2 separate regions of the Homo sapiens genome follow, and region 1 is linked to region 2. Evidence: fine-mapped expression QTL. A gene starts in region 2. The other region holds a variant in brackets. All regions are shown on one strand. Distances are between the middles of the regions.

Region 1 (5,379 bases), 170 kb after region 2:
TAAGGCCACCATCAAAGACTCGAAGGAAGAAGTGGTGATACTTATCACTTTGCTCATTTTACAGATCTGTTGAGTCTGTCAGGAGCAGATGGATCTTGGAGAACATGGATTATTGTAAACCTAAGCAGATGCTGCCTTCTCTTGCAGCTGCTGCTCCAGATGCCAACACTTTCCTGGAGCAAATCAGCACAACTCATTGCATCTGGTGTGTAGCACCCAATGTGCCAGGTGCTTAGTTCTCTTTCCACCCATTTCCAAGGAGCATCAGAAGCCATTTGTTTTAACTGGCAGAATCAACAGTACACTTTCAAGTTTTTGGGTTTTTTTTTTTTTTTTTTTTTTGCCTCAGAGTAGAGATCTTAACAGTCTTTACATCCTACAAAAATCATACTGGTCCACTATATTGGCAGTGTTATGCAGATGAGACCTGATGCACAGGAAATAGTGACTTCCTTAGATACCATAGGAAGAAGACACATGCAGGCTGGAGGATGGGAGATGAGTCCTGAGTCCAAACAGAGCATATTGGGGTATCCTATTCAAAGTGAAAATTGTTGTACCTTTCTCCTCTTATCACTGAAAACAAGTTGCTGCTACCTGGTGGGTCTCCTTTTTTAATTTTGGAGGAAACATATCACATTAAATGTGCTATTTTGACCCGTTTACCCATTAGGCTTCCAGTATTGAACAGGGACCAGAGGCGAGAAGGTGTCTGCAGCAGGTTCAGCCTTCAGAGAAAACCGCACTGTCACTTGGGCCTTATGACCCAGAATATCCACAATGCTTGAAGTTTCTATGGAAACTAGCAATGCAGCGTGAAGCCTCTGACAGCTGCAGCAGGGCAATTGTCATGCAGGGATCTAAGGTTTAGGAGCAAAGCCTTGCCCTCTTCTTCAGGTAATTATTCTCCTTTTGAGAAGTGGCTCCTGCCTTGCAACACACCTGATAGGGACTGAATACCTGACCATGGGACATCATATGGTTATGTGGCCTGAGCGTCTCATCACAAATGGGGTGCTGTCTGACACAGTGACTCATAAAGCAGGGGATGTACAGGACCAGAGCTGGACACTTCCAGGTAGAAATGGCTAATGAATGAAGCTCAAGCAGGTGCAGAAAGCACAGGTGACCTGCATGAGCATCTATCTCGGACTCCCTGACAGCTGCTTCTGTTCTTGCATCTTCTCCCTCAGTCCACTCCTACAACCTCATGAGGAATTCCTTCCGACTCATTGATTGAGGAGGGAGGAAGGCTCTGACCTTTCTTACATCTAGCTCTGCGCAATATGGGAACTGGACTGCTGCTTATTGTAGCCCAATCAGGAGTGCCCCAAAAGACAGAAGGAGGAACTTCAATCAGTACATCTGTTGTCCTCTTAGAAGAGGTAGCCAAAGGTACAGTTACACTGACTCATGGGGAGTGGCTAGTGGTTTGGCAGTTTGTTAGGGACTTGGAGAGAACAAGATTGGAAAATTAATGACAAGGGCATCTGTGGCTGGATCTCTGAGAATAAGCAGAGGTAGTGGAGATATGCATGCCCCGTATGAATGCTCACTCTAGGACATCCACTGCAGTGGAGGCTCTTAATAACTAGGTGGATATGAGCTGACCCCCTTCCCAGCAACCCAGTTCTTGCTCTGTACACACGACCTCTGACTTATGACGGTTTGACTTAGGATTTTTCGACTTTATGATGGTGCACAAGTGACAGGTATTCAGTAGAAACTGTATTCCAAGTGCCCATATAACCCTTCTGTTTTTCACTTTTACCACAGTATTCAGTAAGTTACATGAAAAAAATAAAGTTAAAAAGAAAGTTACACTTTATTATAAAGTAGGCTTTGTGTTAGATGGTTTTGCCCAGCTGCAGGCTAATGTAAGTGTTCTGAGCGTGTTTAAGGCAGGCTAGGCTGAGCTGTGATGTTCAGTAGGTTATGTATATTAAATGCATGTTTAATGGAGTGCCACCGCAATGGAGTGCCATGTTTTTTTTTTATGCTACAGAAAAAAGGCACAGACCTTATATCTTTCACAAAAATTAACTCAAAGTGGATTATAGACCCAAATATAAATGCAAAACTATAAAATTCCTAGAACGTAGCATCAGAAGAAAACATGGCACTCCATTGCGGTGGCAGCAGTTACTACAGCGTCTACCTTCTTTCCAGACTTCCAGAGCCAGCCTCATGTGCCACCTCAGAGACACCAGCAGCTGCTGGGCAGGACCCCCTTCTCAAAGATCTGAGCCCCAGCTGCACAGAGACCCTCCACCAAGCTCTGTGTTTCGATCATCTCACCTCTTCCCTTCATGGCTTTCTGCTGTTTCAATTCTCCAGCCCCTGTTAGGGCAATTCCCTGTATTAAATTTTCTCTGTTAAAACAACTAGTTTAGCTTCTGTTTCCCTGACTGGATCCTCACAGATATTGAAGCAAAATTTATTTATAAGCATGCAACTAAGAAACAGCCAGCGATATGCAAAATGAGGACATCTGTTTTGGTGTGGCAAGTTCATGGCTGCTTGTTTATCTCTCTTCAAATATTTCTAAAGTCCTGTAGTGATGCAGTTTTGTAAGTCCACTTCCTTTTCAGAGGACAGCATGTACCCAGGGCAGGCTG[T/G]GTACGACTCCTGTGTATAATGATGGGTAAGGAGACCAATTTATGTAACTTCACTGGTAATTGCCAGATGGGAGGAGAGAGAAGGCAAGGGCTAGAAGAAAAGGTAAATAGCACACAGAGAAGATGCTATCTAATGGATAGAAAGAAAAAGTGTTTTCTGGTAACAGAAAAACAACCCCACGGTTCAAAGAGAGCACAACCTTTTATTGTATTAAAAGTTGTTTTTCTTTCCCTGCCGTATGGAAGTAGATGGGATACACAAGCAAACAGGGATACCCAGGCGGAACAGGCTGTGCGTCCAGGAGCATTCTGCAAGGGAGACAGATCTCACCTGCCCCTTCCTAGGAGCGGGGATACAAGCATTGGTGTCCTCTGTTGGCCAAGACTGTGAAAATGCAGCTCCCTAAGTGTTATAGGCTAAATTGTGACCCCTCCACTCCCCTCACCAAAAAATTCATATGTTGAAGTCCTAACCCCCAGTACTTCAGAATGTGATTCTATTTGAAGATCAAGTCTTTAGATATATAATTAGGTTAAAATAGGGTTATTCAGATGGAACCTAATCCAATATGGCAGACGTCCTTAAAAGGAGCGATTAAGACACAGACATGCACAGAAGGATGACCTCGTGAGGACACGGGGAGATGGTGGCCATCTGTAAAGCAAAGAGAGAGGCCTCAGGAGAAACCAGCCCTGCTGGCACCTTGATCTCAGACTTCCAGCCTCCAGAACTGTGACAAAACAAATGTCTGTTGTTTAAGCCACCCAGTCTGTGGTACTTTATTATAGCAGTCTGAGCAAACTCATATTCTGAGTCCCTGATTACTTTGGCCACAGCCCCTCCTGCTACAACCCCACTCCAGAAAAAAAAAAAAAAAAAAAAGAACGCATACTTTGTTTCTAGATAAGGCTGTGTCCCCAAATCCCCATCGGGTCTCCTGTCCTGCTGAACTGGGCTGGACAAAAGCACCCACTGCAAGGACTTGGCCCCAGGTCGTCTCAAGTCCAAGGTTATTTCCAAGAATAAGGACCACAGGACAGTTGGCATACAGGGAAATCAGGCAGATAGGGTTTCAGTCCTAACCACAGCACTCATTGCATGAGAGGGCAAATCAATCCCTTACAGGCACTTCCCGAAAAAAAGCCCTAACTCCCAGTCTGGCTGTATTTGGAGAAGGGGCATCTAGGGAAGTAATTAAGGTTAAATGAGATTAAGTGAGGGCTGGGGTAGAGGAGGCCTGATCTGATAGGATTATTGCCCTTCAAGCCTTCAGAAATAGAATCAGCCAGAACATTGATCTCAGACTTCCCAGCCTCCAGAACTGTGGGAAAATACACTCTTTGTTGTCGAAGCTCCCAGTCTATAGTAGCTTGGGATGGCAACCAGAGCTGACTCATGCACCTACGGGGGTAAATATATAGGGGATTAAATAAAACACACCTGAACCAGCTCCCGGTATTCAGTGTATACTAGTGATGATTATTTTAAAATCTAAGACTAGTGGATACAAATGAAAGGTGACTTTATTTTCTAGGGTTTGGAGTTACCCAAAATGGAAGGAAATGCCTTGTAGGTATGACAGGTGGGCACCGCGAAGATCTCAGGCATAGGCCAGAGAATCTATGGGAGGGTGTTGTCACAGAGACAACTCAGGCATCAAAAAGAGATTGGAGAACGTGTGTTTTAAACTCCCTTTCAATCCCTACAACTTTTGAAAGTATGCACTGAGGCTGGGCATGGTGGATCATGCCTGTCATCCCGCCATTTTGGGATGCCGAGGCAGGCAGATCACCTGAGGTCGGGAATTCAAGGCCAGCCTGGCCAATATAGTGAAACCCCGTCTCTACTAAAAATACAAAAATTAGCTGGGCATAGAGGTGCGTGCCTGTAATCCCAGCTACTCAGGAGGCTGAAGAAGGAGAATCACTTGAAACTGGGAAGCAGAGGTTTCAGTGAGCTGAGATGGCGCCACTGCGCTCCAGCCTGGGCGACAGAGTGAAACTCTGTCTCAAAAACAAAAAGCAAAAAAAGAAAGAAAGAAAGTATGCACTGGGATTTTAAAGTCTCTCCAAGCTGCCTTAATGTTCATTTTCTCTGGATAATATATCTTCAGACCTATAAATTAATGGTCAGTGCTATAAACAATTATCAGAAAAGGTATATTTGTTGAACTATCCTTATTTTATTTTGATTTGTATGCTTGCAGCATTGCAAATTCTACTCTTTCAGCTCCTTCACGTTCCTTTACTATTGTTGGAGCAGATTTTTCACAGACTGCCTCCTGCCTGGTGATACAATAAAGTCACACACATACACACACACACACACACACAGAGAGAGAGAGAGAGAGAGAGAGAGAGAGAGAGAGAGAGAGACAGGGAGAGAGCGAGGCCAACAATAGCTACTCCGCGGCTTCCTTCAACAGTCTCCAACACAGTAAGGCAGCCCTTCCAAATCCCACCCTTTTTGGCTTATCATGGGAAATTCCTTCCCCACCTGAGGCACTGCACAGGCGTGGAGGGTTGATTTATTAACAACTGGGGGTGTTCATCAAGGGGCACACTCTTAGCCCCAAATATGTCTTGACATTTTCCTTATGCTGGGAGATCCCTGCCTGACCTGCCTCCTGGGCCCCCATCACCCCAGCCGAGTGTGCGCCTGCCTATAAGACATCCGTTTAGGCAGCACAGAAGGACATCTGGACATAGGACACAATCGTCACTGAGGGTCAGAGTTGGGTCCCCTTCCCTGCCCAGTTTT
Region 2 (5,379 bases):
AAAGACATCCCTCAGCAGTATCTGTGGGCTGTGCAGTGTTCTCAGTTCGATAAAGGATTAGAACACAATGCTTCTTTGGAGAGCTGTGACTTGATACTGCATCAATACCTTTCTGAGAATTGTTTTTCATTTTCTTGCCTCTTTAACTTATTAAGCCTTAGGAGAATTAGTTGAAAAGCCAAGTCTTTGGGGTAGATACTAACATTAAGTCTTCTACTCTGTCATTTGCAATCATAAATTCCAGAACACAGCTCCTAATTCCATTGTGTATTGTTTTCTAAGGGAATGATAGACAGATTCTTTATTTTTTTAAACCTCTAAGCCTACCACACTTGCCGAGTTCCTCACTAGTCACTAAGAAAGTCCTGCCAATCAATGCATGGGTTTATGTCCATTGCTCAGCTCTTCTCCAATCAGACTCATTCCCCCAGCATCCCTGACACACCACTCTAAAATGCGGCTGCTGATGGTTCACCTTCCTCACTTTTGTCTACAAATCTCAATCCTGCTGATTCCACAAATCCTACATCAAGCAATATCATTTTATGAGTCTTTCCACAACCACCCCTTCAGGGGATTCTTCAATTTCTGTCACACCGGAAGTCTTCAGAGTATCACCCTCAGAGCCAGGCAAGAGGGACCCCGGCTAGGGTTTCAGGCTTTAGAGAGTCCAGCTCTGACTCCTTTTGGCCATAGGACTAATGTGATATGCCCACCTGGAGCCTGTGCCCTCCTTTCTAGACCATGCCCTGGGACTCAGAATCCCTTGCCCCAGATGGCCACACAATCACTTTCAGGTCCATTCTCTCTGGGCAGACAACATCACAAATGTGTGTACCCCAAGGCCTGAGGCCAAGAAGGCAGCTTTCTGGCTGTAGGGGCTGAGGTGTTCACACACATTTGCATGGCCCCTCAAGACAAAGAACAAGGGGGAAAGTGAGAAGAAAAGAAGCAGCCAGTGATCAGGGCCAGCTCTTGCAACTTAACCATGTTGGGTCATTCTGATTAAACCACTTAGCTCAAGTGTAGTGCTCAAGACACTTAGCACATTCTCCAGCTGAATTTACCAGTGTTCATGGACTACCTGGGTTAGAAATATATTTCACTATAAAGTAGCATACAAAATGAGCAGAAAGGGAGTTAATAAGATTAATAATAGAGTTAGTGAATATTATGAGCTGAGTTTTTGAGAAACGTAATTTCTTTCAACACTAATAACAACCTTGTGGGGGTTCATTGTCTCCCTTTAAAAATTAGGAAACCAAGGCTTTGCCATGGTCGCATAGGAGGGTCAGAATAGCATCTTTATGACCCCAGAGCATACTCCTCTCCACTCCACCTACCCATGTGTACAACTCAGACACTTTCTGGGATGTCCACGTCAACTATTCTTTAAAGAGTAACCAACAGATGGATAGTTTTCTGTTTGTGAATCAATGGTAGGTGACTGAAAAATTGGTTCTGAGAGGTCGTTTTGCAAGGATTGATGGTCACAGGCTGAGAAGCAGATTTGAAAGACCTACCTGCTAGCAGCATGAAGAGCTGCTCTTCCTTATCTTAGTATTAACTAGTTAATTATTGGAGGTGGGTGCAGGGGTGGATTATGTGTATTCTTAATTGTTGTAGAGTGGGGACTGGGAGTTACAAAGACTTTTGCAATTTTCGACCTTGCAGAGCTGAGCAATTTTCAGTTGCTTTGCTTGCTGATAGCACTGCTTCCCTTATCTACCATGGAACACATCTTAATGAAGAATTTGCATTCACAGCATCAGGTTAATGAATACAAAACAAAACAGTGTATATCCCTCTGATGGATGGGATTTCGGAAGCACAGACATTATACACATATTTGATGATAAAGTACTAGAAGTGCAGGGAATTGAGGTCAAGCTTCCTCCTAAGGGGACTGAATCCCAGAGAGAGCAGGTGACTTAGTAATGAGAAGTGGAGCTGTCTGTTCAACCAGGATGCTCCTCCTATGGCACGAAATTCAGTTTTAAAAATATATTAAATTCAAATCAAATGTGTTAGGTGTGAGTTCTATCCCTACAGGTATGAGGCAGAGGTGGAGGACTTTGTATACAATAGAGAAATAAATACATATATTAGGTCTTCCATGACATAGGATTTACTGACCCTCTCATGGGCATTCCTCTGAGGCATTTTGAGATTTATTGCTATAAAAGAGCCTCCCAAACATTATCTCACTTAGAAAAGGTAATCATATTAATATGATTTTGTTCACAGGAGAGAATTTAAGTGCCACTGCTTAAAGTTATCTCCTTGTTCCTAGGTTTAAGGAGACCTAGTAAATAAGAACATTCCACTTTGTCTGCATCAATAAAGATGAAAGATGACTTAGGAGGTGGGAATTGGAGTGGGAAACATTTTTCTATGTTCCCGATATTCTGAAACACATGTGACTTTATTCAATCACAAGGTAAACAGATTATGTAATTTACCAGAAAAAAAGTAATAAGACTGGTGGTGCTAGGTTTTCATACTCCAGCTATTAATGAATTAAAGAGAGTAACACTCCTGAAAGGATACCATTTTCTCAAGAAAACTGGAAAAGATTGTGTGGCATTTAAAAAATACCAAACTCTGTGGCCATAATGCTCTTAAAATTCATCTGTCTAAAGAAATTAGAAGTGAATCATATTAAATAAGGTTTAGATATGTCCACTTTATCTTCCTGAAAATATAATTTCATTACAATCAGATTTGTCATATTTTATCTGATTTTACTTGCTATTTAAAACACCTTATAATTTACTTGCATATTTAGAATTACAATATTCTTAATATACTTCTTGATCTTAACAAAACCTAGGCCAAATGTTAATCAAATCAAGCTGTTCAAAGTTACTTTATAGCACATTCCTATGAACACACCATACACACAGCAATATCTAGCAAGGGTGTCAATTTTTCGTTATTTTTAAAAGCTCATTTAAAGAAGTTATTTACTACAAATGACTCTACACACACACACGCGCGCGCGCGCGCGCACACACACACACACACACACACAAACCTTTTTAAAGAAACGCTAGAACCCAACCCCCTCTAGGCCAGAGGAAAACATTACAGCTGTATACGCACTTGTGCCTGTTGCCGTAGAGTAATACGGTAGCAGCAGGAGATTACGGTACTAGCTGGGCTACTGCCTGAGTTACGTCAGCGAGAGCTGCAAAGTTCCTTGCTATTCTTTTCTGGTGTCGGGGAGCTGAATATTAAAAGGGTGATTGTGGAGTTACCGGTTATCTGCATTTTTTTTTCTTTTCTTATTTTGACTCTTTTTAAAAAATGCAGGTAAAGTGACAGCGGTTCAGGAGCTTAAAGACATCAGTGGTGGAGGGGTGAGTCAGCGGGTGCAAAAGGACAAGGATTTGGTGCCTCGGAGACACGGTCCCCTCTCCGCCTCCAGAGAAGAGCAGGCAGGCAGCTCCCGGGACCGAAGCCGGGTCCACATCCCCCGCGCGCGAGCTGGTGGCTCAGCAGCGGCGCTTCAGGTGAGTGCGCCGGGGCCGGCGTCCCGCAGGGCCGAGTGGGTGAGGGCAGACCTCCCCCGCCGTCTGGTGAGACGGAACCCCCACTTTTCCCAGCGCCTCCCGCTTTTTCCACCAGGTTTTATACCGGCCCCTCTACCCCACCCCCGATTCCCTTACATCTTCTGCGAAGTTGCCTTCTACTGAACAAGTGTCTTTTTAACCCTGTGTTTATCACCCTCGAGGTAGGAGGAAAAGGGTTTCTGCAGTGGCACGTTTTTAATACCACCTGTGAGGTCTCCAACTTGCGATTTTAACAAGAGTCTTTGCCCGAGGTCCCACCTCAGGGCCCAACCCCAGAAGGCAAGGTGGGCACTTCCTCACGCCGCGCTGTCCTGCCGAGTCCCTGCGGTAGGTTCGCAGTTGTGGAAACCCAGGTTTCTTACGCAGATGGTGGCCCCCAGCCCAGAAAATCGAAGGCGGCCCCTGCCCGCTGGCATGCCGGCTTAATGTTTACGCCTGCAAAATCCGCAGTGACTGTCACTTGCAAAGCTCCCTCTGCAGAGGGACGTCCTCCCCACCCCGTCCCCCGCCAGTCCCGCTACGGCTGGCAGCTGGAGCCCCTCGGGTGGCCAACAGTGAGGCTTGGAAAGGCGTCGTGGACAGACCTGGGTCGCTTTCTGTCTTCGGGTCCCTCCCGGCTTCGCTCGGGACCTGGCTCTCAAGCCAGCTTGGCTGGTGGACAGACCGGTGCGCTCTGCACACCCGAGTGCGAATTCCACCGGCGTGAGAGTGAGCGTGCTCGTGGTCCTGGCCCTGAGGTCCCTGGGTCGCAGCTGTTCCCTCTCCCAGGCCGCCCCCTCCAGGTGACTGCGAGGCAACCTGTTCTAACGGAAACCGAGTACATCCTCCAGAATTCCCCGGCTAGGATCCGTGCGACACACTCGCCAGCCGCAGTCGCCCCTCCGGGGCTTCGAGGATTTTAATTTCGTGGTACCTGCGCTCGAAATCCAGACTTCGAGCGCTGGAGCCTGGGGTTTTGGGGATTTGTTTTTTTGTTTGTTTTTCGCTTCGGATCCTGAACTCGGGCAGAGGTGACTCAGTAGAGTGCGCTAGGCAGGTTCCCAGTGGTGGGGGCGCGAGATGAGCTCCGAAGTCGCCTCCACCGCTGCCGGGCGAAGCAGCTTCTGGACCGCAGAACCAACCCGGCTCCCAACTGGTGTCCCCCAACCCGTCAAGCTCAGCACAGCCTCTTTCCCTGGGGCGCCTAGCTCAAAGCCGCCTTTCTCTTTGCGCTCTTTCAGGTGGACGCGGTCAAACGATGCCCCGCAGCCTCCTGGGTCTCAGCACATATTCCACACCTACGTCCCCTGACCTGTGCTCCTAGAAGCTGGAGAGAGCAGGAGCCTTCGGTGGGGCAGCTCAAAATGTAGGTAACTGCGGGCCAGGAGCAGCGCCCAACCTGTAGCGCTGCGCTACCCAACCATCGGTCCCTGCCTTTGAGCGTCGACGGCTGATCTTTTGGTTTGAGGGAGAGACTGGCGCTGGAGTTTTGAATTCCGAATCATGTGCAGAATGCTGAATCTTCCCCCAGCCAGGACGAATAAGACAGCGCGGAAAAGCAGATTCTCGTAATTCTGGAATTGCATGTTGCAAGGAGTCTCCTGGATCTTCGCACCCAGCTTCGGGTAGGGAGGGAGTCCGGGTCCCGGGCTAGGCCAGCCCGGCAGGTGGAGAGGGTCCCCGGCAGCCCCGCGCGCCCCTGGCCATGTCTTTAATGCCCTGCCCCTTCATGTGGCCTTCTGAGGGTTCCCAGGGCTGGCCAGGGTTGTTTCCCACCCGCGCGCGCGCTCTCACCCCCAGCCAAACCCACCTGGCAGGGCTCCCT

Alleles and levels. Alleles are on the strand shown, and positions count from the first base shown. SD is a standard deviation of normalised expression in the study named.
As copies of G replace T in region 1, the expression in stomach of the gene that starts at base 3,173 in region 2 goes down (small effect, 0.31 SD a copy in GTEx).

Evidence for each region. PIP is the estimated chance that this variant, and not a neighbour inherited with it, causes the effect.
Region 1: its variant is fine-mapped to the expression of ADRA1A in stomach (GTEx, PIP above 0.99). The same link has a PIP of 0.9 or more in ileum, lung and transverse colon.

Annotation. Positions count from the first base shown.
Region 1 is chr8:26,691,139-26,696,517 of GRCh38, reverse strand. No RefSeq gene overlaps it. Among named protein-coding and RNA genes, the nearest start is that of ADRA1A, 170 kb to the left of the region's middle. The variant T/G (reference allele first, on the strand shown) is at 2,619.
Region 2 is chr8:26,865,072-26,870,450 of GRCh38, reverse strand. ADRA1A (adrenoceptor alpha 1A) reads left to right here and starts at 3,173. Exons shown (of 3, transcript NM_000680.4): 1 at 3,173-3,515; 2 at 4,796-5,379. RefSeq lists an enhancer at 3,952-4,903.